Regions from separate parts of the Homo sapiens genome. Here all the other regions are reported to be linked to region 2. The links are microRNA targets in miRTarBase. Many come from high-throughput screens and were not tested one by one. Region 2 holds a microRNA gene; each other region holds the end of a gene's coding sequence.
The links. Region 2 holds the annotated microRNA hsa-miR-181b-5p (AACAUUCAUUGCUGUCGGUGGGU, at 5,069-5,091, opposite strand). A microRNA usually pairs through its seed, bases 2 to 8, with sites in the 3' UTR of a target mRNA and lowers its output. Matches are read on the target gene's strand: a 7mer-m8 pairs with bases 2 to 8, a 7mer-A1 pairs with bases 2 to 7 and ends in A, and an 8mer does both.

Region 1: the mRNA of CCNK is a reported target of hsa-miR-181b-5p. Seed matches in the 3' UTR shown: 8mer at 6,155-6,162.
Region 3: miRTarBase lists SLC35G3 as a target of hsa-miR-181b-5p. Seed matches in the 3' UTR shown: 7mer-m8 at 6,283-6,289 and 7mer-A1 at 6,023-6,029.
Region 4: the mRNA of SRGN is a reported target of hsa-miR-181b-5p. Seed matches in the 3' UTR shown: 7mer-m8 at 6,319-6,325.

What each region holds. Positions count from the first base shown.
Region 1 is chr14:99,509,830-99,517,589 of GRCh38, reverse strand. CCNK (cyclin K) reads right to left here. Exons shown (of 11, transcript NM_001099402.2): 11 at 5,150-7,433. The coding sequence ends at 6,808. CCDC85C (coiled-coil domain containing 85C) reads left to right here. Exons shown (of 6, transcript NM_001144995.2): 4 at 407-502; 5 at 1,304-1,402; 6 at 2,255-7,760. The coding sequence ends at 2,344. Among named protein-coding and RNA genes, the nearest start is that of CCNK, 32 kb to the right of the region's middle. RefSeq lists enhancers at 4,284-5,284, 5,285-5,784, 5,785-6,286.
Region 2 is chr9:124,691,056-124,698,815 of GRCh38, reverse strand. MIR181B2 (microRNA 181b-2) reads right to left here and starts at 5,106; the gene lies at 5,018-5,106. The region is part of intron 2 of NR6A1 (nuclear receptor subfamily 6 group A member 1); the gene reads left to right. It overlaps MIR181A2HG (MIR181A2 host gene), which reads right to left. Exons shown (of 2, transcript NR_038975.1): 2 at 188-498. It overlaps MIR181A2 (microRNA 181a-2), which reads right to left and starts at 6,374; the gene lies at 6,265-6,374. RefSeq lists an enhancer at 3,249-3,794.
Region 3 is chr17:35,186,515-35,194,274 of GRCh38, forward strand. SLC35G3 (solute carrier family 35 member G3) reads right to left here. Exons shown (of 1, transcript NM_152462.2): 1 at 6,006-7,760. The coding sequence ends at 6,777. UNC45B (unc-45 myosin chaperone B) reads left to right here. Exons shown (of 20, transcript NM_001267052.2): 20 at 1-2,829. The coding sequence ends at 45. It also overlaps the pseudogene SPICP2. Among named protein-coding and RNA genes, the nearest start is that of SLC35G3, 4.0 kb to the right of the region's middle.
Region 4 is chr10:69,103,183-69,110,942 of GRCh38, reverse strand. SRGN (serglycin) reads right to left here. Exons shown (of 3, transcript NM_002727.4): 3 at 6,138-7,072. The coding sequence ends at 6,823. Among named protein-coding and RNA genes, the nearest start is that of VPS26A, 17 kb to the left of the region's middle.

The DNA.
Region 1 (7,760 bases), not on the chromosome of region 2:
GGAGTCAGGTGCCAGGGTTAAGTCCAGACCTTCCTGGTCTTGCTGTGATCTGGGTCTCTTGCCCTCCCTAGGCTGAACTTACTTTCCTTGCAAAACAGACGCTAGGTCTTATCTGTGGGGTGTTGTAGAGGAGCCTGAGAGGTGTGGGTGGGCCCTGGACTGCCCCTCTTGCCTCTGTGCTATCAGGGACCATTTCATCTGCAGAAGACCTGGTGGGCGGGACTGGCCAGACTGGCTGTGGGCTCCTTGGGTCTCCATCCTCACACCTGCCTCCTCTGCCTCACCCCGGTCCCCTTTTCCTCCTGCCTGGGCCCTGGCCCCTCAGAATGGGGGCCTTGTCTGAGCCACCGGTCATTCCTGTGGGAGCCAGCCAGGGTGAGCTGAGATGTGTGATTGCCTTCCCCAGGGCCCGGCCTGCCCCGCACCTGAGCTGCCCTCGCCCCCCTCTGCTGGCTACAGCCCTGCAGGACAGAAGCCCGAGGCTGTCGTGCATGCCATGAAGGTGAGGGCCACTACCCGCTCCCTCAGAAGTCCTCAGATGCTGGGTGCACTGTGAGACTGTGGGACCTTTGCACCTAGGGGTATCCAAGTGGCAGGGGTGGGAGGTTTCATCTGTGTGTGGGTGGCTGGGTGACCATGGCTGCCTGGAGCACTGTGAGGTTGAACTCAGAGGTGGCAGTCATAAGTGTGTCACCTGTCTGCCATCCCTGAGCTACTGCACCTAACAAGACTGAGGCCTGGGGTCGGGGAGGGCAGGCACCCAACTAAGGCCAGAGAGAGAGGGGCAGGAGTGGGGCTAGAACTAACCTCAGGTCTGCCAGGCCCAGCCTCTGCAGGTGCAGACTGGTGAGTCCGATGGGCTCCGGTTCCTCCAGGCTGTGCACACCTGAGCACAGTCCCCACTCCCATGCCCCCCTTCCTCCTACGTACGTGCCCCATGACATCCCACATGCATGCACGGCCACGCCTACTCACACCCCCTCCACGTGGCGAGTGCCCACTCATCTCCAGCGGGCCCTGGGTTGCAGTGAGTCCACCTGTCTGAGGGTCTTCCTTGCCCAGCCTGTCTACTTCCTCCCGGGTGGCCCAGCCATGAGCTGCTTCCCTTGTAGGGCATCCAGTGTCAGCAGGGTGAGATGACAACCTGCCCCTCAGTTTTTTCCACGCTTGTCCCCAGGGGCCCAGCGGCTCAGGGTCCTCAGCTTTGGTTCGCAGCAGGGGAGGCTGAGGATCAGGGGCCAGGTGACTTGCCCGAGGTCTGCCGGTGGCCTCTGCCCCTGACCCCGAGACCCGTTCCCTTCAGGTCCTGGAGGTACACGAGAATCTGGACCGGCAGCTCCAGGACAGCTGTGAGGAGGACCTGAGTGAGAAGGAGAAGGCCATCGTTCGCGAGATGTGCAACGTGAGGCTTCCAGGGGTGGGGGGCAGAGGCTTGGCACTGGGAGTGCGACCAGGGCCACCCAGCATGGCCATACCCTTCCCCATGTGGGACTCCATTTCTCGAATGCTCAGCGAAGGCTGGGTGACCTTGGATAGCTGGGGGGAGGCCTCAGAGGTGCTAGGAGCCCTGGCCCGTTGTCATCTCGCTGCCCCCTGCCCTTCCCAGAGGGCCCCTGGTGTCTGCAGATCCGCCCTCCCCAGGAGTGCCGTGCCTGGGGTTCTGGATAGAGCTTGAGCCCCCCACCCCCCCGGGACTGGTTTGTTCACCCCAGGTGTTCCCTGGGTGCTGGCCCCCGGGCCTCTCAGCTTGCTGGTGCCCCCTGTGGCTGCTGGCTGGGCAGATGGTGCTCAGAGCAGGAGGTCCAGGTGGAACCCTCCAGCCCACCAGGCTGGGGCTGCCCAGGAGAGCTCCGTGCTCGACCCAGCTGAGCACCATCGGCGGTCTCCTTGGGGGTGCTTGCAGGAGCCATCGGGGAAGGAGTTTCATAGGGTCTGAACCCAGGACTTAAAGGGGGGGCGAGAGGCTCTGAACTGTGCAGCCCCTCCCCCGCATCACCTAGTGGGGCCTGTGGACCCCACTGGACAGCTGCAAGGCTGAGCCACACCCCAGCAGTGACCTGCTCAGGCCCGATAGTTAGCGCGGCATGCAAAGACCTGGTGTGGGTGTCTCTGGGCCTGCAGTGGCCTCCGTGTCCCTCCTGGCCCCATGGCTCTGAGGACGTGGGTGATTCTGCCGTGATGAGGCGGCGGATGTGCATAGGCGGCAGGTGGACGCGGGTGAGTCCCACCACTCACATCTCTCTCCTCTCCACAGGTGGTCTGGAGAAAGCTGGGAGATGCAGCCAGCTCCAAGCCCTCCATACGGCAGCACCTGTCTGGGAACCAGTTCAAGGGGCCTTTGTAGGGCCACTCTTCTGTGGACGTGGACTGGCCCTGCTGGGGGTCCCCAGGGGGAGTTTCAGGCCCCAGACACGGGCAGGACCTCCAGCCCAGCCCCTGTCTTCTTCCTCTGTGGTGAACTGTACATAGGACGCTGCCCGCCCTGGCCCAGCTGCCATGGGTCCGATGCACTGGCCCAAGCCGCCATCTCCCGCCTCATACACCAGCAACCTGGGAAGACGAGACGCTGCGACTGTTCCTGCAGCAGAGCGGCCCGGACGCCTCATTCCCCCTCTGGGCCCTGGGCTCCATGAGCAAGAGGCTGCAGGCTGCTTCTGAGATCCAGCCTGGGAACTGTCCAGGCTCCTCTGTCCTGCCTGGGATGGAGGGGCCACTCATCAAACCCTCTACTCCCCGGCTGCCACCCACACTGGACAGAGACCACCACTACCTGGGTCTTGACGCAGGTGGCACCACTTCTTGCCCAAATGCCGTGGCCTGGCCCCAGGCCCCCCAAGCACTGGGTCCCCGGCATGTGGACAAGGCCACTCACCACATCTGTGGCTGGCTGGAGGCTGCCCTGGGCCCTTCCTGTGACCCTCAGCCTTGGAGGTCAGGGTGCCCTCACACCTGGGGATCTGTGCTCAGCCACCCGATGCCCGCTGCTCCTTGCTTTTGGAGGTCATCCCCCTCCCCCCCAGTCTCTGCAATGTCCCCCTGCCACCCTGTCCAGGCTATGCCCTTCTTGGGCTCCTCCTGCCCCATGCCTGAGGCACGTCCCTTTTCGTGGTTTACATGACAGGCCAGTAACAGGAAGGGCCTGGGGAGAGTTTCTGGGCTGAGCCACATGTGATTTTCCTGATGGGCAGCACTGGGCCACAGCTGGGGCTCTGGTTGGCTGTGACCTCCCCCAGGGCCTGGCTGCATCTTGGGTCCCTGTGGACAGAGCTGTGTAGGCTGCAGATGAGAGTTCTGTTCTTTTTGGGAAGGAGCGTGTCTGGCCAGGTTCTGCCTTTAGTTTGTGGTGTGACCTTTAGCAGTTCACTCAGCCTGTCTGGGCTCTTGGTGGAAACAGGTCTCTGAGGTTCCTTTTCGGCCATGCTTATGGCTCCAGGTCATCCAGCGCCACAGGGCAGGGGTCCTCACTGAGGGGGCGTGAGCCAACAGCCGACGGCTGAGGGCGGGCCGGGTGGAGCTGAGTTCTGCTGCCTTGCAGTCGCTGCGGGTGGAGAGTTGCCTCCCCACTCTGAGCCCGTGTCCTCAGTAGTAAAATGGGCAGCATAAGGCCCTCCTCACAGGATTCTGGCATCAAGTGAGATCTTCAGTGTAAATGACCATGTATAAACTGTAAAGTGCAATAGAAAACTGTGTGTGTGAGGAAAGTAAGGCCTAGAGGGGGTGATGTGTGGCACATGACAGGGATTTTGATCCCACAGCTGCAGCACGGGGACAGGCCGCTTCCCCACATCCGCTCATGCCACTGTAAGCAGCCCTAGCTCTTGGGTCCAGGACCTCACCAGGTCCTCGTCAGACTCCTGTGCTCTTCCAGGGGCTGCTCAGCCCCACCTGAAGAGCCCAGAGAGGCTGTCTTCCTACCCAGCAGGTCTCATGCAGGCCCAGGGCTGGGGATGCAGGCAAGAGGAGGGAGATGGCCGCCCTGTCCCTCTCCCTAGCTGGCGGCTCTATTCTGAGCAGTTCTTGCTGCCCGTTTGCTCTCAGGGGAAAGGCTCACGCCCCCCATCTTAGCCCCAGGGGGGTAAGTGGGTGCTGGTGATGGGATGGTGTGGCGCTCCTGCCGTGGGTGTTGCCAGGAGGCTCTTTGGGAAGGAGTGTCGCCCGGTCAGGTGGTGCGCTCCCGGTCACTAGGGGTGTACACGTGAAGTTGGGTGAACACCTGCTGCTCATGGTACCCAGTGATTCTTGCCCGAGTGGGCAGCTGAGCAGAGGCCCCTCTGGGTCTTGCAGTCCAAAGAACCGCAGAGTAGCCCAAGGGCTGTGGGTCCATTTTGAGTGGCAGCCAAGTCTGGGAGCCCGTGTGCATCATGTTTGGGTCAGGTTGGCGTGGCCACCACTGAAATAAGCAATAAGTACGGGCTCCTGGTACCTGCGGATCTCCTGCAAACAGGCCCAGAGAACAGCCTTGAAGCCACCTTTCCCCTCAAGGGGACTGACCCTGTCTTTAATGCTGCAGTGGCATCCAGGGATCAGTGGAACATTGCTTTGAGAACCCTCCTGCTGTTACGGAGGCAGCACAAAGCTGGTGACCCCTGAGCCAACACGGCACTGGGATGGCTTTCTAGGACAGAACCCTGTCGGCGACTGTCACATCTCAAACTAATAGCTGATTTTAAAAGCCAGCAGCAGCGACGCCATGTACCTGAGTACAGGTGGCAGTTGCAGAGCCGTGGGCTGTAGAAGGTCAGATGGGGCTTCCCACAGGGGAAATCTGGGCATGCTGTAGCTCAGGGTGACTCCCAGCTCCGTCACTAGCAGGGCGACCCCCTTCCTTCTGGAGCCTTAGCTCTGAAAGCCCCCAGTGGGGGTGCCCTTTCAGATGCCCCCTTTCCATTTCAAAGGCTCTGACTCTTGATCTTGAAGCCGGACGCGGCACTGGCACTCGGCTTCAGTTTCCACTGTGACAGATGGAGGTCTCCTTTCGCCCCAGCCCAGGTGGCCAAGCCCATCCTGGCCTCAGAACATGCTGAGCACATTTTGTAGGGTGGCACCTTTTTATCCAAGTTACTAGCTACACATCAGTGTTTAAAGAGAAAAAAGTGACCTTTCATTTTTTTTTTCTTGAAACTTGAGGAAACAAGATACATACTACTGATTTTTTTTTTTTCTTAAAACTAAATGCATGACTGCAGAGCGGTAGAGGTGTATATTTTTCATACTGTGGGGCAAAGTATTTGTGCTGCTTTTTGGAGATGGACTGGAACGTCTGGTTTCTGTCCCCGGGCCCGGCAGCTACGTCTATTTTCTGTAGAAGGTGCCACAGTGAGACCTGGAGCCACCCCTTCCTGCCCTGGCGCCGTTTAGAGCTGGGAGCCCGTGGACTCCCGGCCTGTTTCTACCTTCTATTCAACCACTCTGACGTGGGGAGACAAGAAGAAATAGAACTTTTTGATAGTGTGGTAAAAACATTGATTTGAACTATTTTAGTAAAAGGAGTAACAAACAAGATTGTGATAGTGTCTACTTTGAGCTAGATAAATAAAGGCCTCTTTGTGAGCCTCCTGGCTGGGTGCTCAGTGCTTGTTTCTGTCGTGGGTGGCAGGGTCAGCAGGCAGAGACAGGGCCAAGGCCCCTCAAGCACCGCAGATGGGGGCTCAGTCGGGGCCCCTTCCACAGACAGAGCCGTGGCCCCTCAAGGTGGACAGTGAGGCCGCTGCTCCTCCAGCTGCCTCTGTCTCATCACAGGCCAGAAGTGGAAAGGGTTTCAAATCCAAGCCCCCGGGTTCCTGTGTGCGTTCTACGCAGCAAGGCTTCAAAGTTTCAAACTGGTTTGGAACTCAACCAGGTCCTCCAAAGGAAACCAAGGCAGGCACAGGATGGGGGCAGGCTGGCTTGGCAGGCAGCTGTGCGGATCCACCCAGAGTGCCTTGGGAGGCAGTGGGGTTGGCTGTGGCTGCTGTGAGCTGCAGCCAGGCCTCTCCCGCGTCCCCAGGGTCTGGAAGGAGGGCCTCTGCACATTTTATAAGCCACAGACTGCGAAGGCCTGGAGCCCCACCTTCCACCCATAACAAAGAAAGGGATAGTTTCAGAACTGCTTTTATTTGGATAACTGACTGAAGGAGTCTCATTTGTAACCAAGATGGAATTCACAGTATGTTGTTACATTCACACTTAAAAAATATATCTCTATGTACAGGAATTTGCAAAGAGATGTAAACATACATTAATTTCCAAGTACATTTCTCCCCTTCTCCCTGGAGGAAAAAAAAAAAGCCATCCAATGAGGCAACCCCTTCAAAATAATTTTAATACAAAGGATGCAAACATCTATAAATGAAAAATGTGGTTCTTCTGCCCCTTCTGGGTGTCATGGGAGAGAATGTCACCGAATGAAAATGACAACAGCTTGGCTTCAGATGGAATTGGACTATTTAAAATTGAGTTTCCAGGAAAAATAGGCACTGATTTCTAGAAGGAAATTAACTCCTTACCGAAGCTATTTATTGAGCCAATATGGCTGGTTAACGTCCTCACTAGTATAAAGTAACCCAGTGCAGGACTCTCAGACATTAGCTGAACCAAGTGTACACAGTCAGACTGCAAGGGCACTGATGAGGCTACTCTGAAAGCTGGTTGTCCCCGTCCTCTAGGTGTGAGGACCACTCTGATTTTATCCCAGGGGCCCGGTCCATTCTTCCCATACTGCAACTGTCGTGCATTATACAAGGTACCCTGCTGCTTACCCACTTCAACTACTCTGCAAGTCGATTAGAAAATCTTGTTAAAAAAACAAAGAGGGAAAAAAGGCTCACGTTATCTCATCCAGGCTGCCCGCCCCAGCCCCCCAACTGGAGGCATGCCGGGTGGGGGAATGGGCGGGGGCACAGGAGGCTGTCCTCCAGGGGGGACGGCAGGAGGTGGGTAGCTGGCTGGCGGCAGGCCCAACCCTGGAGGAGGATGAGGGGGGACTGCGTGGGTAGGCGGGAGGCGTGGGGGTGGGGGTGGGAAGTTGGGGTTGTAGGTGGGTGGGGGTGGGGGGTAGCCAGGAGTAGGGGGTGGGATGGCAGGTGGGGGGAAGGAGGCTGGGGGAGGAGGCACAGGTGGCGGGGGCGGGTTGGGCGGGTAGACATGGGGGTGGTAGGGCAGGTGTGCAGGTGGGCCGTAGGCGGGGGGCAGGGCACCGTAGGAGGGTCCCTCGGTCTTCATCATGGACTGCAGGCTCTGGTAGCCCTCTCCAGACATGTAGGAGCTGGTGGTGGACATCCCGGTCATGTAGCTGGAGGGGGGTGGGGGCGGGGGCCGGTGTGGCAGCGGCGGTGGCTGGTGCACAGGGGCCGGGTGGGCCGGAGGGGGAATCTGGACTTTGGGGAGGTCAGTGGCATCCACAGGGCCCGGCGGCTCAGCCTCACCTAAGGCAGCAGCGAGGGGAGGCTTCCGGTCTGCAGGAGAGAGACGCATCAGTGCCCGGCCTCCGCCAGCAATGGTTGCTTTTTCAGTGCCTCCTGGCCCTTCAGGGCCATCTTTACAGAGGAGCAGGGAGCAGCTGCCCGCCTCCTCTGTGGCCCAACGCATGGGCCCATGCCCCATGTCCTGATGCCACCAGATGTCTCCCCACCATCTGTCAAGAAGGCCCTCCACCCTGTCTGCGACGACCTGGGGTTTTCCCTCCCTCAGCCCTGACCACACCACCTACAGGCAGTCTCGGCAGCACCCGAAGCCCCCTTGTGCCCTGGCCCCAGCCCCCTCTTCCTAGTGCAAAACGTGTG
Region 2 (7,760 bases):
ATTTTATCCTGATATTTGGTAGCTATTAAAATTATATATAGGCTGAAACTGCAATGTGTGGGACAGATAGATAGCTGAAGGTATCCTGTGCTTGGTTCAAGGAGAAGATTACTTCCTAAGTTATAAATATAATTGTGCTAGAAATTACAAGAAAATTCGTTTGATAAAAAAAGTTAAAAATTCATTTGATTAAAAAAAACATTTATTATCTACTCCATGCCAGGCCCCTTGACAGGTTATGAGATCACAAAGTCCAGTTGGATCTTGTTGAGGTACAGCCTGAGAGGAGAACATGAATAGGCTGGAATTTCCTTCATTGTGTTCGTTCTCTGAGGATGACTTATCTGTCCTCCAAAGTGACCACCTCCCACGGATCGAGAGCCTGTTACTTTCTACTATCCCTGCAGCTGTGCTTTCCACAGGACAGTTCGCCTTTCCTTCCTTTCCTCTGTGGATTCTTCCATCTGATTTTCAGCCGAATGTAGGTAGATTCTGCATCTAAAAGAAATCTTTGTTTTTCCTTTTTCTTTTTTTTTAATACATGATTTAAAAGGCGAAAGATTTATATGATCTGAAGAGAAACCAGAGTAGAAAGACATGATTTAAAATTAACTTTTTCTTAATTGTTGAAATAGTTTATGCTTATTGGTAAATACTTGGAAGATCTATAAGAGTATAAATAATAAACATAAAAATTACCTATAATTCTACAACTTTGAGATCACAGTTGTTAACGTCTTTGCTTCTAGTCTGTTTGAACTTCCTGTCTGCTTTTTGTCTCCTATCAGCCAGTCATGCTTGGCAGCGCTTACAAAACACACACACAACACATGCACATACACTAAGATCTTAATATTTTGTGTGTCAGATCTTGTGTGAAATTCTTTACATGTATTCTTAATCTTCAAGCAGCCCTGTGAAGCAAATACTATTGTTGTATCTCCTATTTACAGATGACACAGATTTAAAGGTTAAGTAATTTGCTCAAGTTCATATAGTTGCTAAGTAACAGCTGAGATTTTTACCCTCATTTAGCCCAAGCTCTTCATCACTACCTTTCCAGAAATCTATTTCCACAATGACTAGAACGCCAAAATTGTTCTTTCCAAAACTATTAGTAATCTGTTTTTTTTTTTTTTAAATCCTACCTTCTTTTCTGGCCTTGTCTCATGACTTTTTCACCATCTTTTTATGTGCTTTAGTCACAATTTCTGTTTTGTAAAAACACTGCTTCTTTGGCCTACACAACATACCATCCATTCTCTATGCTTGGAATGCTTACTCTATTTCACCAAGGTAGTTACACATACCCTTGAAGTCTTTACTTATACATCACTTCCTCAAGGAAGTTCCCTGACCCTTCTTACCACCAAGACTGGATTGGTCCCTCCTATTATTTGCTCTCATAGTACCTTACTTTTATCTTCTGCAGAGCTCTTCACACTTGCAATTAGCTATTTGTTCGTTAGAATTAGTTCTGCCTTTTACGTTATATACTTTTGTTTCTTCCATGTCTCCTGGCTCCTGTTGCAGTCCAGGTATACACTAGGTGTCCAATAAGTATTTGTTACCTTTTTCTTTCTGCACTTAGATCATTCTTTCTCAGATCCATGCTTATGAATCATAAATGTGCATTCCTTGTTCTGATATCTGTTCCAAAAGTGGAATCCTCTTTCTTCCATTGTGAAATTGCCCATTTCTTTCTTAGTACACTCCAGGCTCCTAATCTAGTCAGGAAAGTTTGGCATCATTCTTGACTCTTTGCTTTCTTTTCTGTTTGAGCCAGTTCTTTGGAAGGTGGTTCTGATATATCGATATGGAAAGATGGCCACAATATTTTAAGTGAAGAAAGATTTCAGGCCGGGTGCGGTGGCTCACGCCTATAATCCCAACACTTTGGGAGGCTGAGGCGGGTGGATCACTTGAGGTCAGGAGTTTGAGACCAGCCTGGGCCACATGGCAAAATCCTGTCTCTACTAAAAATACAAAAAATTATCCAGGCATGGTGGTACGTGCCTGTGGTCCCAGCTACTTGGGAGGCTGAGGTGGGCGGATCACTTGAGGTCAGGAATTCGAGACAGCTTGGCCAACATGTCAAAACCACATCTCTACTAGAAATACAAAAATTAGCCAGGCGTGGTGGTGAGTGCCTGTTGTTCCAGCTACTTTGGAGGCTGAGGTGAGAGGATCAGTTGAACCCAGGAGGCAGAGGTTGCAGTGAGCCGAGATCACACCACTGCACTCCAGCCTGGGTGACAGAGCGAGACTCCATCTCAAAAAAAAAAAAAAAAAAAAGCTAGAGAACATTATGTATAATTTGTGATGTTATTTTCTCTAAGTATAAATACATGCATTTTAAGTATCTTGAAATATCTGTGAGGCTATACACCGAACAGGATGATGGAAGGGGGTCAGCCAGTAGGCTTTTATTTTGAAAAACAAAAGCCAAAGTATGCCTTTTTGAGATAACCTTTCCTTTCATTCCATTCCTGTTGACTCAGTTCTACCCCTGCTAACTTGTGCAAGAAAGTTCTCTTTTTTCTCTTTTCTTCCCCTCACTTCATCTGCTTAGTGACTCTTCCCAGTCTTGCTTTCATTGTCTCCTTGCTGAGTTTAGCATTTAAAACGGCTCTCTGTTGGACTAATTGACTTTGCGCCTTGCTCACAAGTCCTTCTGTAATATGTCCTTTTACCTTTTCAGTGCCATTCCTTATGACTCCCTAATACAGTCTCTGGACTATTCTCTTCCTGTCCCCTATACATGCCATGTAATTTTTCTGTTACAGGTATTTATTTTGAGGCCTATCTGCAGAAAACACCCTTTAACTTACATAATTGTCTCCCTTCTTGTAGTACTTAGTTTTATCCAAGAGAAAACTTGGATTTGGTTTAATGAAATATATAATTGTTTCATTGGCATATTTAAAGACTATGTAATAGTCTGTAAATAAATAGCATGCTTGTTCAAGTGTACATTTTTCAAAGTACGTGTCAGACATTCTTTTCTAATGTTTTCAGAAATTTTGGAAATAATTGGTTAAAAATAAATGCCTAGAATGCACAGCATCTTGAAAAACAAGACTGCGTGGAGTACCTTCTGTGTGTCTACCAGTCTCACAAAAAACTCTTCTATAAAGACCCCCTCGGGCCGGGCGCGGTGACTCATGCCTATAATCCCAGCAATTTGGGCGGCCGAGGCGGGCGGATCACTTGAGGTCAGGAGTCTGAGACCAGCCTGGCCAACATGGCTCTACTAAAAACACATTTCTTCTAAAAACACAAAAATTGACTGGGTGTGGTGGCGGGCCAGCTACTTGAGAGGCTGAGGCACGAGAATCACTTGAACCCAGGAAGCAGAGGTTGCAGTGAGCCGAGATCGCATCACTGTACTCCAGCCTGGGAAACAGAGCAAGACTGTCTCAAAAAAACAAACAAACGAAAGAAAAACACACACAAAAAAACCTTTTGGTAATTTCTTTGGGTAGGTTTTAGTTTTTTAGATAGCGTAAATCCAAATCCATTCATTTCCATAAAACATCAGACACAATTTGATGTATATTTGGCCACCAAACATGGTGCAAAATTTTATGTAGTCTGGAGATACTTAAAAGCAGCACAAATGTGACTCTACCTGTCTGCACTCAGCAGAATAGTGGCGATTTCAGGTGGTGACACAAAAGGTTGGGCAATAGTTGAAAAGTGGATGACATGAAATGTGGTGGTGGGATGGGGGCAGGAAGCCGATGTTAAGCTAGTGAACTTTATTTACTTTGCTTCCAGCTTCCAGTGACCCAAAATCACCTCGTCTAGAGTAGGGCTCAGGAATTTGCCATTTTAAAAGCAACTCTAGATGATTCTGGTGTACAAGAAGTTTGGGAAACACTGGCTTGAACCTGATATTTTCTCTGAACTCTCATAGTTTTCTTTAGATTTTTCTTTTGGCTTTGATTTCTCTTTCTGGTTCTTGTCTCATTACCCCATCACTTCTCCTTCCTAATTTGACAGGAAAGCCTTGTCAAATTAAGGCTTGCTTAATTGTCAAGGCTAATTTGACAAGACTCTTCTCTTACTGTCTTATTTGACTTTTGCTATGAGAATCTGCTTCTTCTTAGACTTAAGTGTATGATAAATTATTCATGACCAAGGGCCTTGTTTTTCTTTCTTTAACATGGGATTTAGTGGCTTATCTCATGTTACAGGATTTAGAGAGTTGATACTACATTTAAATTTTTTGTTAAGAAAAATGTACATCTTCTATCTCACTTAGGTGTTTTTCCTGTTTGAGGGACATGGTTTGCAAAGGTTAGAATGAATGAGCCTCATAGTTTTTGTCAAAAGAGAATATTGATGTACATCTGAATAATAACCAGAACATTCATATTAAGTCATACTATATAGCCATTTAAAAGAATGACGAGTACATAAAAGACTGTTGTGGAAGTCTATGATATATAGCTGAATAACAAAATAGATTATAGAACAATAGGTAAAAATGAGCTTATTTTTGTCTAAGCCACTCTCCCCCCAAAACATGCAAAATTACAGCTATTTATCTGTGTATGTATGGATAAAGGTCTTCAAGGATATAAAATAAATTCTAGTTATGATATTTATTATCTTAATAAGTTTATTATAATTATACATGTTTTCCTCCGAGGAAATGGATTGCAGATGATGATTGAAGGGATTTTCAATTTTTACTTTGTATATTTTTGTATTTGAATTTCTAAATAATAAGCATATGATTCTGTTTAGAAATTCTGAATGTACTGATTTTTAAAATGTGATGTGATATCCAGATATGTATTTAATTCTTCCTATAAAATATCATTTCCTTAAATCTAGACTATTGAAAAAGGAGAAAAGTACTAGGAATTTAGAGAACTTACTCCATGTTAGAACCAAGGAGAACAAGAAAAGCTTTAGCTAGTGTTTTGGAAATAGTAGCAGCTCCCACTCACAGCAGTAGCTGCTGCACTCAGGCGACTCTCTGCACATGCTTTTGCTTCCTTTGGGTTGTTTGGTCCGCAGTTTGCATTCATTGATCAGTGAGTTGATTCAGACTCAAACCCACCGACAGCAATGAATGTTGAGTGCAGCCATCAGTGTTTTCAGTTGGTGGGGTTGCCTTTGCCCTCCCTGGCTGACTCCTGGCTCTTCTTTTCCATCTCAGTTCTTTGAAGTCTGTGTGTCTGGCTTCTCCCTTAGTAACCAGCCATCTGCATGATTGAGGGCCCACACAGGTGTCCATAACATTGACATTGGAGCTGGGAGGTTATTGCAGATGAGGAAGCTGTGGTTCAGAGAAGGAAGGAGTGCTTGGAGAACCTCACAGGTAGCACTGCGCCACACAGGCAGTGCTTGCATATTAGTACCTGTAAACCACAGCTGAGGGACCTGCTTTTCCTCTTTGTTTTGAACTGAGAAGTATGAGTGCTTTTTTGAGGTAAATTAGCAGATTATGTTGGAGTTTAATAATAACAGCTTACATATATTGAGCATTTGCTGTGGGCTAGTAATGGTACAAAGCACCTTATATATTATCTCATTGAGTCTCAAAACTCCATGATAGGTACTCTTAGCCTCTGTTTTATATGTGAGAAAACTGAGACACTTGCTTAGGGGGTCAAATAACTAGTTAAGGGCTTGAGCCAAGATTCATCCCAGATCTGACTGACTCCAGGGCTAAGTTTTTGCTTGAATTTAGCAAACATTTAAATAAGCATATGTGGGGATATGTGGGCACTAGTAAGGCAATAGCTCATGCTCTAACTGGGATATCAAAAATTAACCATATTAACTATAATTCAAAGTGAAATGTGATAAGAACTGTCACAATTGGATAATTTTGTGCTATTTTTGCTTATTAAATCCTCCCCTTGCCCCTAATTAAAAATTTTGAGAGGATGTGGGAGAAATGGGAGTAATTATTTAACTGGATTTTATTCCAAAACAAAATACGTATTTTTAATAAATTTTTACTTGCTACGTCCTGTTTCTCACCAGAATGGTGCATATCTAGGAGACATGTAGGTACATTAGATATCATCATGGACTGCTCCTTACCTTGTTGAAATGAAACACTTTTTTTGTAAAAACAAACAAATAATAATAAAACACACAACAGAAAGCAAGGAACAGTGAGCAGTAGGAATAAAATTCACTGGACCACATTTGGGGGATTGCAGGACCATTTCTGGTGAACTCATGTGACATGTGAAGGTACAGCTTGCTCTTTTGCTTCAGGAAATGTAGTGTCGTCTGTAAGGACCCCAAGGTACAGTCAACGGTCAGTGGTTTTTTCAAATCCCAAACTCACCGACAGCGTTGAATGTTCCTTGGAGTCCTCTGAAGGCTGGCCTGATAGCCCTTCTTCATTCTCCCATCCACATCCCAAGAACCAGTGAGCAGTGAGACCACCGCTGATGGATGCTCTTACATTCCTCTCTGGGTTTCAAGTCGAGAGTATTTAAATTATAAAATCAATTTGTGTGCAGCAGAGAACTAATGAACTGTGGGATAGACTGTGCAGTAATTTGTACAAGCAGACTCAAATGAATGTCTGAGAAAATGTCTTTGAATGGTATTATTTTGTGATTCTAAAAATGTAAAATACCTGATTTTGCAGTAGTATTTTAATTGTTAACAAGGGTAAGAGATTAACATATATTGGGGATCTGCTATATACTAGGATTTGTATATTTTATCTCATTAAATTCTCAACAACCCACATTTTCCTGATGAAAAAACTTGAAGTGATTTGCCTAAAGTTACATTGCCAGGAGCCAAGGTTATAAGCCAGAATTTGAATACTGGACTTCATGTTTCCAGTGCTCACTCATCATACTGCTTCTGTTGTCTACTACAGAACTTACTGTTGATATCTAGGAGTAGACCCATCACTGCAGAGCCAAAGTCAAACATGTAAATTTCTTCTACTTGTTTGCCTATAATAATAGCAGGTAGGTCTATAGGTGAGGTCATAGGGGAAGATGAAAAACCTCGACCTCCATGATTGATGATCTCCTTTGCTGAGATCCTGCATTACTAAGTTACCACAGAGGTGTTAGTGATAGTCCACAAGCTATTTTCCATATTGAAAAAGCAAAAAATAAACCAAAAACCCACCACCTAATGTAAAGCTTGCATTTCTTCTTAGTTGAGAACACAGAGTGTAACTAAAATGTCAGATGTCATTTGTTCTGGCTGAAACGATACCAGTACATTATAGGACATAGTGGTTATTTTTGATTCTGTTGAATGTCTGTGATGAAAAATTTGAAAAATGAATTAATAATATGAATCTTCAGAATATGTGATTTACAATGGGACAGATCTAGGAATACTTAATAGGAAAAGGGCTTACAGAACTGCCTGCTGAATTGAAGTTAATCTCTAAATGGGGATAGTTATTACTATTTGCTTTAGGTTTAAATACTAAAGGCTGACTGGTCTCAAATTCATTTTTAAAGCAGCCAAATGGTACACGTTAAAAGAAAAAATATCAACCACTGAGATTTAGGTTTGAATGTAAACTGTTTACCTTCTATATCAGTTTAATTCACCCTCTGTCAAAACTCTGCATTAGCCAGCTTTGTTGAGTTTTCAGTGTTATGACAGTAAATTGTATACACACACAAAAAATCAGGCAACTGTAACTGTGTAATATGTTTAAAACTTTTTAATGGGTTTATTTTAAAAAGTCTTCCTCTTGGTCCAATAATATAAAGCGATGTCAAGCCTTATACTATTTGGATAAA
Region 3 (7,760 bases), not on the chromosome of region 2:
CTCATCAAGTGCATGGATTATGGTTTCATTAAACCAGTGTCTTAGACAGCGACCCTCAGGGATGCTGGGAGTGGTCCTGTACTGTGCAGAGTCCTGGGTTGGTTGGGTTCTCCTGAAGAGTCAGGTCATCTAGGGATCATAGCAGTGACAATGAAGTCTCAATATAAAGGAAAGACTTGATTGTTCTCTGAGTTGTGAGTCTTCTCCTTTGTCCTGACAGAGTTTGGATGTTTCACTCTCTCTCTTGCTTCCTGTCTCCTTATATTTGTCATGTTTCAGAAATTCCCAGAATAATTTTCACCCATGATTAGAAATAGGTTGGATCATTCTTTCTGTACCCATTCTGAAGGCCAGGATAATAGGTTGAAGTTCTTTATATTTTGGAAAATGGATTTTGTGGTAAGGTAGGAACTAACGGGTGTGTGCATATAAAGGTTAATGCTGTTGTATTTGGATGCTGATCTGTGCTGTTTTCATGACCTCTCTCCCACACTATTTGAATCAGTCTGTTCAGAACTGTGTGTTTCACCTGCAGTGCTCTGTCCCAGTCCCATGCCCATTCCCATCACTTCACTGTGATGGAAATAGAGTTTATGTTCAACAGTGGGGCATGACCTCTGCAATTTGCTTGGGAAAGTCTTCCAAGCAAGATGGACATGATGAATACAAATAAGATCTACTCAAAGTACTTCAAACAAAAAATAAATAATTCATTGGCTCATGTATCTTGGCCACCCAGGGAAGGTCTGACATTGTTAGTTAGATCCAGAGTTTCAAATGTCATCACCATGGATGTGTCTTTTTCTCTCTCTCATTTCCCCTCCCCATATCTTGTCTTTTATTTATTATAGGTTTGTCTCATTCCCTGGCAGGCTCTCTCCCTGTGATAGGAAAGAGAGTCCCCAGCAGCCCCAGGGTGACATAGTTGTTATAGTTCATTATGGAATAGAAGAGAGAAGAGCATTCTCAATAACCCGGCAAAGTTCCCAGGGATGACTCTGATATGTCTATGTCTCAGGTCACATTTCCATCTATGAACCAATCATATTCAGAGGTGGAATGCTAATTGGCCAGGCCTGGGTCATATATACAAGTCTAGGGAAGAAATGAGCTTCATCCCTGTCCAATTGACATGGACTGATTAGGGGTATTAATGGAAGAGGTGTGCCACCACAAAAGAATGTACCCTGGGCAGATCAAAGAACATATTCTGTATGTCAGGCTTGGCCACAAAAGAATGACACAAGTAATATGCTGTAGATCAGAACCTCTCTGCTAATATTGCCTTTTTAGCATGGTTAAGATAGCTAAGATCTAGTACTGTCACTCCAGTATGTCCCAATTCTACCTACGTTTATTGAAGGGTCAACAGTTCTGATCTCAGCATTGGGTAAAGGGTGGGACATTCAGATTTACGGTCCTTGATAAAAACAATTTACAACGTTCCGTTGTGTAATAAATGTAAGTGTACATATGCCTGGGACATCAGCTGGAAAAGGGACAGACTATCAGAGAGTTGCACTGTTGCGGTATGGGCCAAATCCAACATAATACCCGCTGTACCTCTAGAGAACTAAAACCTTAATTTCTCAGATCTTTTCTGCACTAATGGTCTTTACATACAGCCTACATTTTAACTAACTCTTGCATGGGCTTGTTTCACAGCAGGAAACTATATTCATCATATCCTTATTATGATAGAGAATGACAACATTCAAAAGGGTGTGGTGCTTCTGAAAATATACACAATAAATGGCATGATTTGACCTCTGTCAAATTCTTCTTTCCTGCTTTCCTCATATGTGGGCTTGAGTGGGTGTATTTAGCTCCTTTAAAGGAAACTCTTTCACAGGCAGGGCCACACTCTTACTCGTTTTGATCTCATGAGGTTACATCTGCCAGTGGCGTTCAGGGCCAGTTAGATAAAGTTCATCTTGTTTGGATTGGAGAGACTTTTTTTTTTTTTTTTTTTGAGACAGGGTCTTGCTCTGTAACCTAGGCTCAAGTGCAGTGCAGTGGTGCAGTCATGGCTCACCGCAGCCTTGGTCTCCTGGGCTCAAGTGATCTTTCTACTTCAGCCTCCTCAATAGCTGGGACTACAGGCACACACCACCACCCCCAGGTAATTAAAAAATTTTTTTTTGTAGAGACAGGGTCTCACTATGTTGCCCAGTCTGGGAGACCACATTCTTTAACATGAATATTTTGTAAATAGTCCAAGAAGATCTAGAGGAAAGCTGAATTCCTTCATCTGATTTTTGCCACTGGGCTGCCTCCCATTGTCTGGCTAAGTCTTCATGGGAGGCCTTTAAGAAAAGCTGTGACAAATACCTTTGTTTCCCACTGCCTAGGTTACATAAGTAGTTGGCTTTTCCAGCCTAGACTCTTATATTGTTGCTTGTAAGAGGGCCCTTCTTTGCAGATTTCTTTTTTTTTTCATCTATGCTTTCAAATAGGCAGATGCTAGCCTGAGATCATCTCTTTATTGAGGTAGTTTGCCCAAAAACAGCAAGGAACAGCCAATACCTGCCAACTTTCTAGGTTTTTCCAACCAATTCTCTTACAGAAAATCTATAAATATCTTAGAGGTATGTTTCTTAGTTTCCCAACATATAATGGGAAAATTCATCATTTATATTATTACTTTTAACTGAAGTATGTTGTTATCAGAGAACTTGGTCTGTGTCATATTAATCCTTTGCCATTTGAGAAGCATACAGTTTTAAAGTTTATATCTCCAAAAGGATATTTTGTAAAAATTTAACCCCTTTGACTCTTAGTCTTCTCATTTGTGAAAGGTAAATAATAAAGAATTTCTGTTCCTAGTAAGAGTAACTTGTGGCAAAACAATACCATGACATACAAAAATTGAAAAACTGGGCAAAACTTAAACAATCTGTTTAAGGCACCGAGAGCCATTAAGGCAGTGAGACCAACAAAAAGGGAAGCACCAAGGAGGAAGCTTAACTTTTTGGTAAAGTTGATTCCATTTGGGATGTTTGCCAATTTGTTAGCAGAGGTTGTGAGTCACAGAGGTTTAAGTGTCTGAGACACCATTTACTAAACTGTTAAAAGAAGAAATAGAAAATTTGAATAGTATGATACCTATTGGAGAAATTACGTTTGTAATAACAACAACGATGGTAAGGAAAGCCTTCCCACAAAGAAAACTCAGGCCCATTTAGTTTCACTGGTGAATTCTACAGGCATTTAAGAAAGAAACAATGCCATTCTTTTGTTTTCTTTTGTTTTTCGAGACAGGGTCTCACTCTGTCACCCAGGCTGGAGTGCAGTGGCGTGATCACGGCTCACTGCAGCTTCAACCTCCTGGGCTCAAGCGATCCTCCCACTCAGTCTCCTGAGTAGCTGATATTCACTGTTAGTCCTCCAACTTAATGTTTTTTTCTTTTCCTTTTTAAAAACTTTTTTTTTATATAGAAATGGAGATTCACTATGATATTATAGGTGCATCAAGTATTTTTATTTTTTATTTTTTGTAAAGACCAGGCTGGTCTTGAACTCCTGGGCTCAAATAATCCTCTCACCTCAGCCTCGCAAAGCGTTGGGATTACAGGTGTGTGCCACCGCGTCTGGCCAAAACAGTACCAGTCTTATGCAAACCCTTCCAAAGAAGATAAAAGAAAGGACACTTTCAGCTCTTTTTATGAGGATAGCTTGATAGCAAAACTTAACAAAGACATATAGGAAAATTGTAGACCAGTATCTTTTATGACTATAGGTACAAAATCCTTTACTAAATACTAGCACCCCAAATCCACCAATATATAAAAAGATAACACATTAATCAAGTTATGTTTATTCTAAGAACAATAAGTTGGTTAATATGAGACTATCAACCAATATAATGTACTACATCAACAGAATAAAGAATAAAATAATGACTATCTCAATAGACGTAAGAAAAGTTTTTGATAAAATTCAGTAACAATTCATGATAAAACTCTTCAGTAAACTAAAAATAGAAAGAAGCTTCCTTAATGTGATAAAGTTTATCTGTATAAAATCTATAGCCACTGTGATATTTAATTATCCCGAGATTAAGAATGAGATAACAGTACTTGCTATTACCAATTGTATTCAACTTTGTACCGAAGAGCGTAGCTAGTACAAAAAGGCAAGAAAAGGCAATGAAAATCATAAAATTGGCCAAACGTGACAGCTGTTACAATGGCAGGTTACAGGTTAGCCAAGCGGGAGGCAGACATGTGTTTCAGGGGAGGGGAAGGCTATTTCCACCATATGCAAGTGGATGCTGCATTGGACACTGATGGGCAGAACCATCATGCTGGAAAATAATTTTTTATTTTCATGACAGCCTACCATTGAATTTACAATTCTGATATTAATGAAATATCTCTATAAAGGGTTGAAGTGTCTTCCTGCAACAATTGCCAAGGAACAAAATTGTCAATTTATTAATGAAACATGACGTGTGTTGAACAAGACAAGCTGGGTCAAGCATTTGAGGATGCTTTTGAGGCACTGAGGCAACATTCAACTGGAGATCTTTAGTACTCGCCAGATTACAAAAATTACCTGGCTTTAATCAATTATTGTCCTCACGTCAAAGGAAATTCCAGCTGCTATGGAGTGTTGCCTACAGAGGAACCTCTCTGTAATTGGAGAACGGTAATCAACAGTGCTGCGGACTTCTATTTTGAAGGAAACATTCATCAGTCTCTGCAGAACATAACTGAAAACCAGCTGGTACAACCCACTATTCTCCAGCAAAAGTGGGGAAAAGGCAGGAAGAAGCTTAGACTGTTTGAATACCTTCACGAATCCCTGTGTAATCCGGAGATGGCACCTTGTATTCAGTGGGTAGATAAAATCAAAGGCATCTTTCCGTTTGTATCAAAAAACAAAGGAAAACTTGCCGAGCTTTGGCGGAAAAGAAAAGGCCGTTGGAAGACCATGACTTATCAGAAAATGGCCAGGGCACTGAGAAATTATGGAAGAAGTGAGGAAATTACCAAAATCCGGAGGAAGCTGACTTACCAGTTCAGTTAGGCCACTCTCCAAAGACTCTCTCCATCTTATTTCTTGGGGAAAGAGATCTTTCCCCAAGTGTGTTAAACCTGATCAGGAATATCTCAGTTTAAATAACTGGAATGCAAATTATAATTATACATATGCCAATTACCATGAGCTAAATCACCATGATTGCTAAATATACTCTCATATTTCATGGTTTCCTGGCATTGGAAGTCCCTACAGTTTTAAGGATTTCTCACTCTCTGTCTCTTTTTTCCTTCCTCTGAAGGAGTTTAGGATTTTTCTCTTAAAGCAAACACTAAAGAGAAAAAAAACCAAGTAACTTTATTTGCTGCTTTTATCAAAGAGCATGTAATCTATACTAACTCAGTGGGAAATTCTGCCAATGAGCAGCTTTTTTTTTAATACTCTATGAAGATTCAATGAAAAACTTTATTGTTTCAAATGATTAAGTCCATTTGAAACTATAGACTAAATGTCCTTGCTCTGCTCTTACTATTCTCTCTAATTTTTTTATTTTATTATTTTTTAAAAGAGGTCTCAGCCAAGACAATTTTAAATTTTTATGGATTTAGGAGTACAAGTGCAGTTTTGTTGCATGGATACATTGCGTAGTGGTAAAGCATATTGCATAGCATCCTCATCATCAGAATAGTGAACATTGTACCCAATAGGTAGGATTTCATCCCTCATCCCCCACCCATCTGCCCACCTTTTGGAGCCTCCGGTGTCTATTACTCCACTCTGTATGTCCATTGCTAAGCCCCCAACTATACTCATTTTATTTTATTTTAAAACTTGTTTTCTTTTTCTGCATACTTCAATGGATGCAAACTCTTTTCATTTTTTCTTTTCCTTTCACAGACAGTGACTTCATTTTTTTTTTTTTTTTTTGCTGCTAACTCCCAAGCACAACACAGTGACTTATGTTTTTAATTTTTTTAAGAGGCAAAGCCTACCTCTGAAGCTCCTTTTTTTTTTCTTTTCCTACTTCAATAAGCTGGTCTACATTCTTACTCTTCTCTATGCAACCACTTTCTTCTAGATTAACAGTGCTAGTACAGATGATTTGATTTATACATTGATTTCAGCATTTTCTTTTCATGTACTCAGGTGAGGAAAATCACTCTTTTATATCCAATGACTTTACAAAAAATCATTTACAAAGAAGTGACTGCATATGATAAAATATTTGTGCCAAAATAAATTCATGGCTTTTAAAATGTCATAGAAATGTCTATTCAGGTATCTTTTTTTTTTTTTTTCACATTCACTGTAATCCTTGTTTGATGTCAATGTCACGTCACCACCCCAAGCGGGGGGCACAAGCACGAGGAAAGGAAACCTTCCCCGTGAGGGGAGGGGTGGGGAGGCACGCTTCCCTCCCCCAGCGCAGCTGCTGGCTCTGTCTTTGCCGGAACACTCCAGCCCCAATGCTCTTCTCTTTGCTGCTGAGTGAAGTCCTCCCCATGGCCCACGGCCTCCCTGCCTCAGCCCTTTGGATCTGCTCCTCAGACTTTACCCCTTAGTTATGCCCTGATTCTAGGACCCAGCCTGGACTCCACATCCCTTGGTCCCAGGCTGGCCCCAGGTCTTCCACGTAGTCCCTCTCCACCAAGTCCCCAAGTCACCCTTGACTCTGAGAGGTATCCCTCTCCCACACCAGTTCTTTTCCAGTCACTTCTCCTCCCATGTTTGTCTTCAGTCTTTGCCTTTATTTATCCCTGTCCCTCCCAACCCCCGGGCTCCCAAGTTCTATCTCACTCCTCCACCCTCCCTGTCCTCTCACAGCTGAGGTTCTGGGCTGTAATGATGGCAATGCTGCCCAGCACAACCCCTGCCGCCACGATGTCAGAAGGTGCCACAGTCTCATGGAGCATATAATACTGCAGTATAAGGGCCACAACCACCTCGGAATGTAGGACAGCGCACACCAGGGCAGGGTGGGCCTTGGTGACCGCATAGCCCACACATGTGAAGGAGACCAAGGCGAGGATCCCCACTGCCCCCACACAACTCCAACTCAGGAGGTCACTGGGCAACACGGGGGCCTGCAGCACAAAGAGGCCTGGCACAGAGCCCAGCAGCCCCACCAAGCCAGATAGGAAGGCCACTGTTGGGAGGCAGGGGGGAAAGTGCAGAGAACGATAGACCAGAAGCCTCAGGGACAGCGCCAGGCCTCCCAGGAAAGCCTCCACATAGCCCAGGGCGGTGTAGACACCCGTGGTCCCCTCCTGTAGTGTCCAGAGTCCAGGTCCCACAATGATGATTAGTCCTAGGATGCAGCCCAACAGTCCACACCAGTCGTAGCCACTGAGACCCTGGCTCTCAAGGCAGAGAGTGAGGACGGCGGAGCAGACGGTGGAAGAACCTTTGCGAACAGTGGCAGCGTTGCCAGCGGGCACCACCTGAACCGCACTGTAGGCACATCCAATGCTGAGGATGTTGAGCAGGGCACAGAAGAAGGCCCGGCTTCGGATGTCAGGAGTTCCCAGAAGGGGGTCGCCACGCAGTTTAAGTAGCAGGGCAATAGGGAGGTGGAAGAGGCATCGCCAGATGAGCAGCTCCAGCGAGGGCAGGTTGGAAGCCTGGTAAGCCATACGAGAAAGGGGGCCCACGAAGCCAGCAGGCAGGCCCCCACCCAGCAGGGCCACCAGCAGGCCACTGGTGGCATCAGAGGGCTGGCAGCGCTGGTACCAGCGGAGGCTGGGTGGAGCGGAGGGCGGCGATGGGTGTGTGGAGTC
Region 4 (7,760 bases), not on the chromosome of region 2:
GCTCATTGTGCCAGTTTTAGGGTGGCCCATGACAGAGGCTGACTGACATCTGTCCAAGTCATTTTGTCTACCTGGTTGTTTAGTGCCTCTTCTGTGATGGATGTTTTCTGGTGGGCATTCACATTTGATACGTACATCTTCACACTTTGTCTTCTCTCATTGGTCCATCCACATGCCTTTACCCTGAGCTGCTTCGTGCCCAATCTTCCAATCTTTCTGTTTTAGACCCCTTATCAACTGGGCAAAACAGTCACCACAGTCCATGCAAATGAGTATCTTCCAACCTCAGGCTACTTCTCTCTCTACACAGAGTGGATGGCCAGGAGCACCACCCAATGCTCCTGCTCACTGGGAGGATTTCCCCTCAAAGCTGCTTTTCAAGTCCACTCCTGAATGGCATTGTAGTGTAGCTGACATCCACTTTTGGCTTGCTCCCATATACCAGACCAATCCATGTGTGAACCAAGCTGGAGTTTATTCCTATCCTGGCAGTTGGTCATTAGGAAGCCCTCATACAGTCATAGATGTGAGCCCAGGAAGAAATGCTGGTGCATCAGTGGCAATGACATGGGGGTCTGGTCAGTGACCACTGTGATTTTCTGTGAGATGTCCAGCCAGTTCAGGTCTCTTTAGATGGTACTATGACAAAGAGTGGGAGAGTTAAAATAGTCCTGGGAATAGACTGTAAATATACTGCCGTCTGTTCCAAGAGTACGTAAACTCTTTCTGATCCTCTTTTTTCTTTTCTTTTCTTTTTTTTTTTGACAGGGTCTGGCTCTGTTGCCCAGGCTGGAGTGCAGTGGCGCAATCTCAGGTCACTGCAACCTCTACCTCCCAGGCTCAAGCCAACCTTCCACCTCATCTGCCTGAGTAGCTGGGACTACAGGCGCATGCCACTACAACTGGCTAATTTTTGTATTTTTTGTAGAGACAGAGTTTCACCATGTTGCCCAGGTTGGTCTTGAACTCTTGAGCTCAAGCCATCCATCCACCTTGGCCTCCCAATGCTAGGATTACAGGCATGAGCCACTGCGCCTGGCCTCTGATCCTCTTTTAAAAAATGGAGAGATGAGGTCTCGCTATATTTCCCAGGCTGGTCTCGAACTCCTGGGTTCAAGTGATTCTCCCACCTCAGCCTCCTAAAGTGCTGGGATTATAGGCATGAGCCACTGTGCCCAGCCTTATCCTCTTTTTTTGATAGGGATATAAAAGAAAGCATTTGTCAAATAAATGACTATTAGGTATCTAAAGCTATGTAACTCTGCTCTAGCAAAAGTGTTCCACCTGGGGATGCTGCTTCAATAGAGCTACTACAGATGCACCTCAACTTACAGTGGGGTTACATCCCAATAAACCCATCATAAATTGAAAATATTTATTTATTTATTTATTTATTTATTTTTGAGTCTGAGTCTCACTCTGTCTCCCAGGCTAGAGTGCAGTGGCGCAGTCTTCGCTCACTGCAACCTCCGCCTCCCAGGTTCAAGCAATTCTCCTATCTCAGCCTCCGGAGTAGCTGGGATTACAGGTGTGCACCACCGCACCCAGCTAGTTTTTCTATTTTTAGTAGAGACAAGGTTTCATATTGGCCAGGCTGGTCTCGAACTCCTGACCTCAGGTGATCCGCCTACCTCGGCCTCCCAAAGTGCTGAGATTACAGGCGTGAGCCACCACACCCAGCCAAAAATATCTTAAGTCAAAAACACATTAAATACACCTAACGTATCAAACATCATAGTTTATTTAGCCTAGCCTACTTTAAGTATGCTCAGAACACTTACATTAGCTTACAGTTGGGGAAAATAATCTAATAGAAAGCCTATTTTGTAATAAAGAGTTTTAATGTCTCATGTAATGTATTGAATACTGAAAGCGAAAAACCATGCTCGCTAGTGCTGCCCAACACCGCCAGAGAGCATCACATCACATATCACTAACCTGGGAAAATGTCAAAATTCAAAAATTGAAATTTAGTTTCTACTGAATGTGTGTCACTTTCACACTATCATAAAGTCAAAGAATCATTAAGTCAAATCATTGTAAGTTGGGGACCCTCTGTACTCGGTTGAATTTGTAATAGTCCACTAGCACTCTCCATTTGCTTTTTGTGAGGCCCAGACTGGTGAATTAAATGGAGGTGCATTGGGGACCAGCATTCCTGCGTTCTTTGTTTTTTGTTTTGTTTTGTTTTTGTTTTTGTTTTTTTGAGACAGAGTCTCACTCTGTCGCCCAGGCTGGAGTGCAGTGGCTCGATCTCGGCTCACTGCAACCTCCGTCCCCCGGGTTCAAGCGATTCTCTTGCCTCAGCGTCCTGAGTAGCTGGGATTACAGGACCCTGCCGCCACGCCCAGCTAATTTGTGTATTTTTAGTAGAGACGGGGTTTCACCATCTTGGCCAGGCTGGTCTTGAACTCCTGACCTTGTAATCCACCTGCCTCAGTCTCCCAAAGTGCTGAGATTACAGGTGTGAGCCACCACACCCGGCGCGTACCACCATACCCGGCTAATTTTTGTATTTTTAGTAAACATGGGGTTTCACCATGTTGGTCAGGCTGGTCTCCAACTCCTGATCTCGTGATCCGCCCATCTTGGCCTCCCAAAGTGCTGGGACTATAGGCATGAGCCACCACGCCCAGCCACCATAGTGTTTTTTTATTGAGGCAATTGCCCTATGCCTCCTGACCATCTTGATCTTTCTGGTTGAATAATGTGGTGGTTAATTTTAGATGTCAACTTCACTGGATTAAGGGATACCTAGATAGGAGGTAAAGCATTATTTCTGGGTGTATCTGTGAAGTTATTTCGTCAGGAGATTAGAGTGTGAGTTGGTAGACCAGGTGCGGAAGATCTGCCATATCCCTGGATCCCTGGTCCAAGGCCTTTGGACTTGGACTGAGCTATGCTACCAGCTTCCTTGGTTCTCCAGCTTGCAGATGGCCTCCACCATCACATGAGCCAATTGCCCTAATAAACCTCCTCTCATATATCTAAGTATATGTCCTAGTGGTTCTGTCTCTCTGGCAAACCCTGCTTAATACAATAGATTGAGCAATACTTTTGCTGGCTGTGCAACTACATTGCCTCTAGAGATGCCATCTCCTATCTCAGTGCCCATGAGGCTCCCCTGGATACATCTCTGACCTTGCTGCTCATTAAGATAACTGCACCTCTTGGCTTCTTGGCTGGACGCGGTGGCTCATGCCTGTAATCCTAGCACTTTGGGAGTCCAAGGCAGGCAAATTGCCTGAGCTCGGGAGTTCGAGACCAGCCTGGGCAACACGGTGATCTCTACTAAAATACAAAAAAAAAAAAAAAAAAATTAGCCAGGTGTGGCAGCGTGTGCCTGTAGTCCCAGCTACTCAGGAGGCTGAGGCAGGAGAATTGCTTGAACCCAGGAGGCGGAGGTTGCAGTGAGCTGAGATCTCGCCATTGCACTCCAGCCTGGGCAACAGAGTGAGACTCCATTTCCAAAAAAAAAAAAAAAAAGGTAACTGCACCTCTTGGCTTCTGATGGTTGAGCACTACCACCTGGTCTCTATTATTTTGGTACCCTTTATTCCCACTGCTATTAATAAGCCCAGTTATGTAACAACATCAGCCCTGCCTTTCAGAGGAAAGCCACTGCAGATGGCTCAGAGGTGCTGATTGCTCTCACCAGGCTATTCTTTATTGCTTTGGCCTTCCTGCAAGACAGTCATCTGGTGGGTTTGCAAGGCTTATATAGTCCATTCATTCTATCATGTGCATTTCCTTAATCCTATTGACCCCTTTTTCCACTGCCTGGCATGACAATTCTAGTATTTCCACTTCACTTAAGTGTGGGCTGTCACTTTCTCCAAGTGTCTAAGAGTCATTTTAGCAGAGTCTCAACACCTTCTCCCAGGGTTCTTGCCAGGGCATTAAAACCTGTATCCCAGGAGGGTACACTCACATTGCTAAACACTCCCTTATCCAAGTTTGTGTTCTATCTCCGTCCCTGGATCAAGGACTTCCAGAGTTAAGTCTTACAGACACCCTCTTAGCTTTTAAGGTCCACGTTAGCTAAGTTCTACAGAACTTTCAGAGTATTTTACCTTTCCTCCTGAGCAAGCCCAAAACTCCCCTGTTGGTTTATACTGACTTAACTTTGATATTTATCTGCTGTCTAGGAAGGGAGGTGGGGACAGATCTTGAAGGAGAGTGAGTGTTGTCTTTAAGGGTAGAGGCCTCTTGATTGTCTTCAACAGGAAAGCACTAGTTTTTTTGTTTTTTGATTGCTGTTTTTTGTTTTGTTTTTTTTTTTTTTTTTTTTTTTTGAGACAGAGTCTCGCTCTGTCACCCAGGCTGGAGTGCAGTGGCGTGATCTCGGCTCATTGCAAACTCCACCTCCCAGGTTCAAGTGATTCTCATACCTCAGCCTGCCGAGTAGGATTACAGGTGCTCGCCACCACAACCAGCTAATTTTTGTATTTTTAGTAGAGACAGGGTTTCACTGTGTTGGCCAGGCTGGTCTTGAACTCCTGACCTCAAGTGATCTGCCCGCCTCAGCCTCCCAAAGTACTGGGATTACAAGCATGAGCCACCACACCTGGCCAGCATCGGTCCTTAAAGCATGGGACTCTTCTGTAGATTCAGAGGTTCAAAGGAATCTGAGGATTTAAAACTTGAATGTATCAGCCCAGATGTTTCCATCTCTCAGGGTCCTATTTTTCCCCAGTAAGGACTCTGAGCTTGCATAACAGACTGGGCTAAGCTGACAATTTAATATTCTTGGAACTCTGCTATTTTTTTTTTTTTTTTGAGATAGAGTCTCCCTCTGTCACCCAGGCTGGATTGCAGTGACATGATCTCAGCTCACTGCAACCTCCCAGGTTTGAACCTCCTAGGTTCAAGCAATTCTCCTGCTTCAGCCTCCGGAGTAGCTGGGATTATAGATGCCTGTCACCACACCTGGCTAATTTTTGTATTTTTAGTAGAGACAGTGTTTCGCCATGTTGGCCAGGCTGATCTCAAACTCCTGACCTCAGGTGATCCACCTGCCTCAGCCCCCCAAAGCGTTGGGATTGCAGGCGTGAGCCACCACACCCAGCCATCTGCTATTCTCATAAGTCCTGGGCCTGGTCCTCAGCTTTTTAATTCCTTCTATTACAGAAGAGAGTTTCTTAATATGCTGCCAAGGAGGCCCAATGGTTTTCACATTTAGCTTTTAATTAATTGTCCTTAGCCTTTCATTGTCTTTTTCAAAAGCATTAATTAAGTCCAGCAATAGCCAACCAATACCATTGTCTTTATTATTACTACTTGCCAACATTTCTCAGATGCCTAGTACATCACACCCTAGTGCACTCCCTTCCACTGGTATACCATCTTGGTTCATCACCAGTGAAAGTTTTAACAATTGCACTGCTATCTTGTGCCTGTGCTCATCTATGGCCAAGGATGGAGTCCTCATTGCCAGCCAGACAGCAGGCAATCTAGCTCCAAAATCCCATCTTAGCATCCATTTCTTATCCCTCCTGGCACAACCTGTCACAAGTTGTGTTCTCCTAGAAGCAAATTCTGAGATGGAAACTAGCAGAAAATTTCTAAGGGAGCACTCTCAGGATAGAAACCTATGAGCGGAATGGAAGGAAGTAAAATTGAGTAAAGAAGAAACTGAGCTACAAAGTAGTCCCAGCAAAACTGGAGCTGATCCTGTGGGGAGTTTTGAATCTGTATGACTATTCTGAGTTCAGGCCTTGATATGCCCACATCAGCCAGTCACTGGATGCAGGCTGCCCTGCAAAGCAGCATGACCTTGGGCAAGGTGGCTCTCTCCTGAGGAGATTAATTTGAGTAAGTACTCAGTTCTGGAGCTGGGATCTGGACAGTACAGAACAGAATCCAGGATGGTGATGTAAGGGGGCTTTTCAGAACTAAGGGGAACAGAGATGGAACTATCTTTCAGGTGAGGAAGTGCTTTGAGATATATAACCCTCTTGCTAAGGCATCATTGCTTTCTTCATTTGCTAGTTAGTATGATTTGATTCTGGTTACAAAACTTGTGTTTACTGTAGAATACGTTTAAAGTTGTTTTGTTGATAAGACTTCTGGAGAAACGTCTGGCCAAAAATAACTGTTTCCTGGGTTTAGAACAACAGATCCGAGACAGCTTAACCTTTGGTTATATTTCTGCTTTAATATATAGTAACATTTGAAAATACACAGATATCCAGGAAAAAAAGGTAAAGCAGTATGAGGTATTGACAGCACAACTGTGTTTTAATTTGGGAGTTAATTTGGGGTGTTATGTAACAGCAATCATACTTGTAGACAAACACATCCACTAGCTCTGCAAACACATTCAAAGGTAATAGTATATAGTACACTCCACCCTGTAAAATATGTCAAATACCCCCACTCTACAAATTCACTGTGTTTCATTATTTTTTTTTTTGTTTTTATAAGAAAAGGGGCATATCATTATAATTCACAATCCAAGTCAGAGTCTTAATTTAGGTATGAAATATTACCTGCCAATTTGCTTCTCAAGCTACTTTAAAAATATATATATATTCTTTAAAGCCATTTTATGGCCATGGGAATCTAATTAATTTCATAATGATGTTGGTTGAACATGATACCAAAAAATGCAGGTATTTTCAAGAACAATAAAATAGATAACAGCATTAAAGCATAATCCTTTAAGAATTCATGAGAAAAAAAAGGATGATAAAACTTAAGCTTCTTTTTCAGATGTTTAAAAATTTCTATAAAATTCTTTGTCCCAAGATTAATCATATAACCATGGTACATAAAATATGCTAACTACATTGCCTGGTGTCAAGGTGGGAAAATCCTCTTTTATAACATAAAATCCTCTTCTAATCCATGTTGACCCAAGTCCTGGCTGTCTGAGGGCAGATTCCTGTCAAGAGACCTAAGGTTGTCATGGAAAGCATCACTTTCGTCTACTAGTTGGTAATCCTGTTCCATTTCCGTTAGGAAGCCACTCCCAGATCCTGATCCAGAGCCGGAGCCGGAGCCGAAGCCTGATCCAGAGTAGTCCTCAGAAAGTGGGAAGATACGATTCAAGTCCTGGATTCTCGTCTTTCTGAAGTATGAAAGAAAAATGGGAAAAAAACCAGTGGAGTTTGATATGTGGGAAAGATAATTATAATAGTTTTTTTAATATAAGGAGATAAATACAGCCATCTAGTTGCTCAAATTAAGAGATTTAAAAGCTTCCCAATTATTCAATGTTTTAAAATCAACAAAAAAACAGGTCAAATGTTCCTATGTGTTTGCCTATACTTATTGCACCTATCAACTTCACATCTACCTATTGCAGACTTGCATAAACAGTGTTAATTTTGTTATCACTAGCATATACATTCTATATTTGAAATTTACTTAAGAAATCATTTTAATTTTTATTTTTGGAGGCAGAGTCTTGCTCTGTTGCCCAGGCTGGAGTGCAGTGGTGCCATCTCGGCTCACTGCAACCTCCACCTCCCAGGTTCAAGTGATTCTCCTGCCTCAGCCTCCCGAGTAGCTGGGACAACAGGGGTGCGCCACCATGCCTGGCTAATTTTTGTATTTTTAGTAGAGATGGAGTTTCACCATATTGGCCAGGCTGATCTCAAACTCCTGACCTTGTGAACCACCCACCTCCCAAAGTGCTGGGATTACAGGTGTGAGCCACTGCACCCGGCCCAAGAAATCATTTTTAAAAGAAGTCCTCTTGGCCGGGTGTGGTGGCTCATGTCTGTAATCCAAGCACTTTGGGAGGCCAAGGTGGG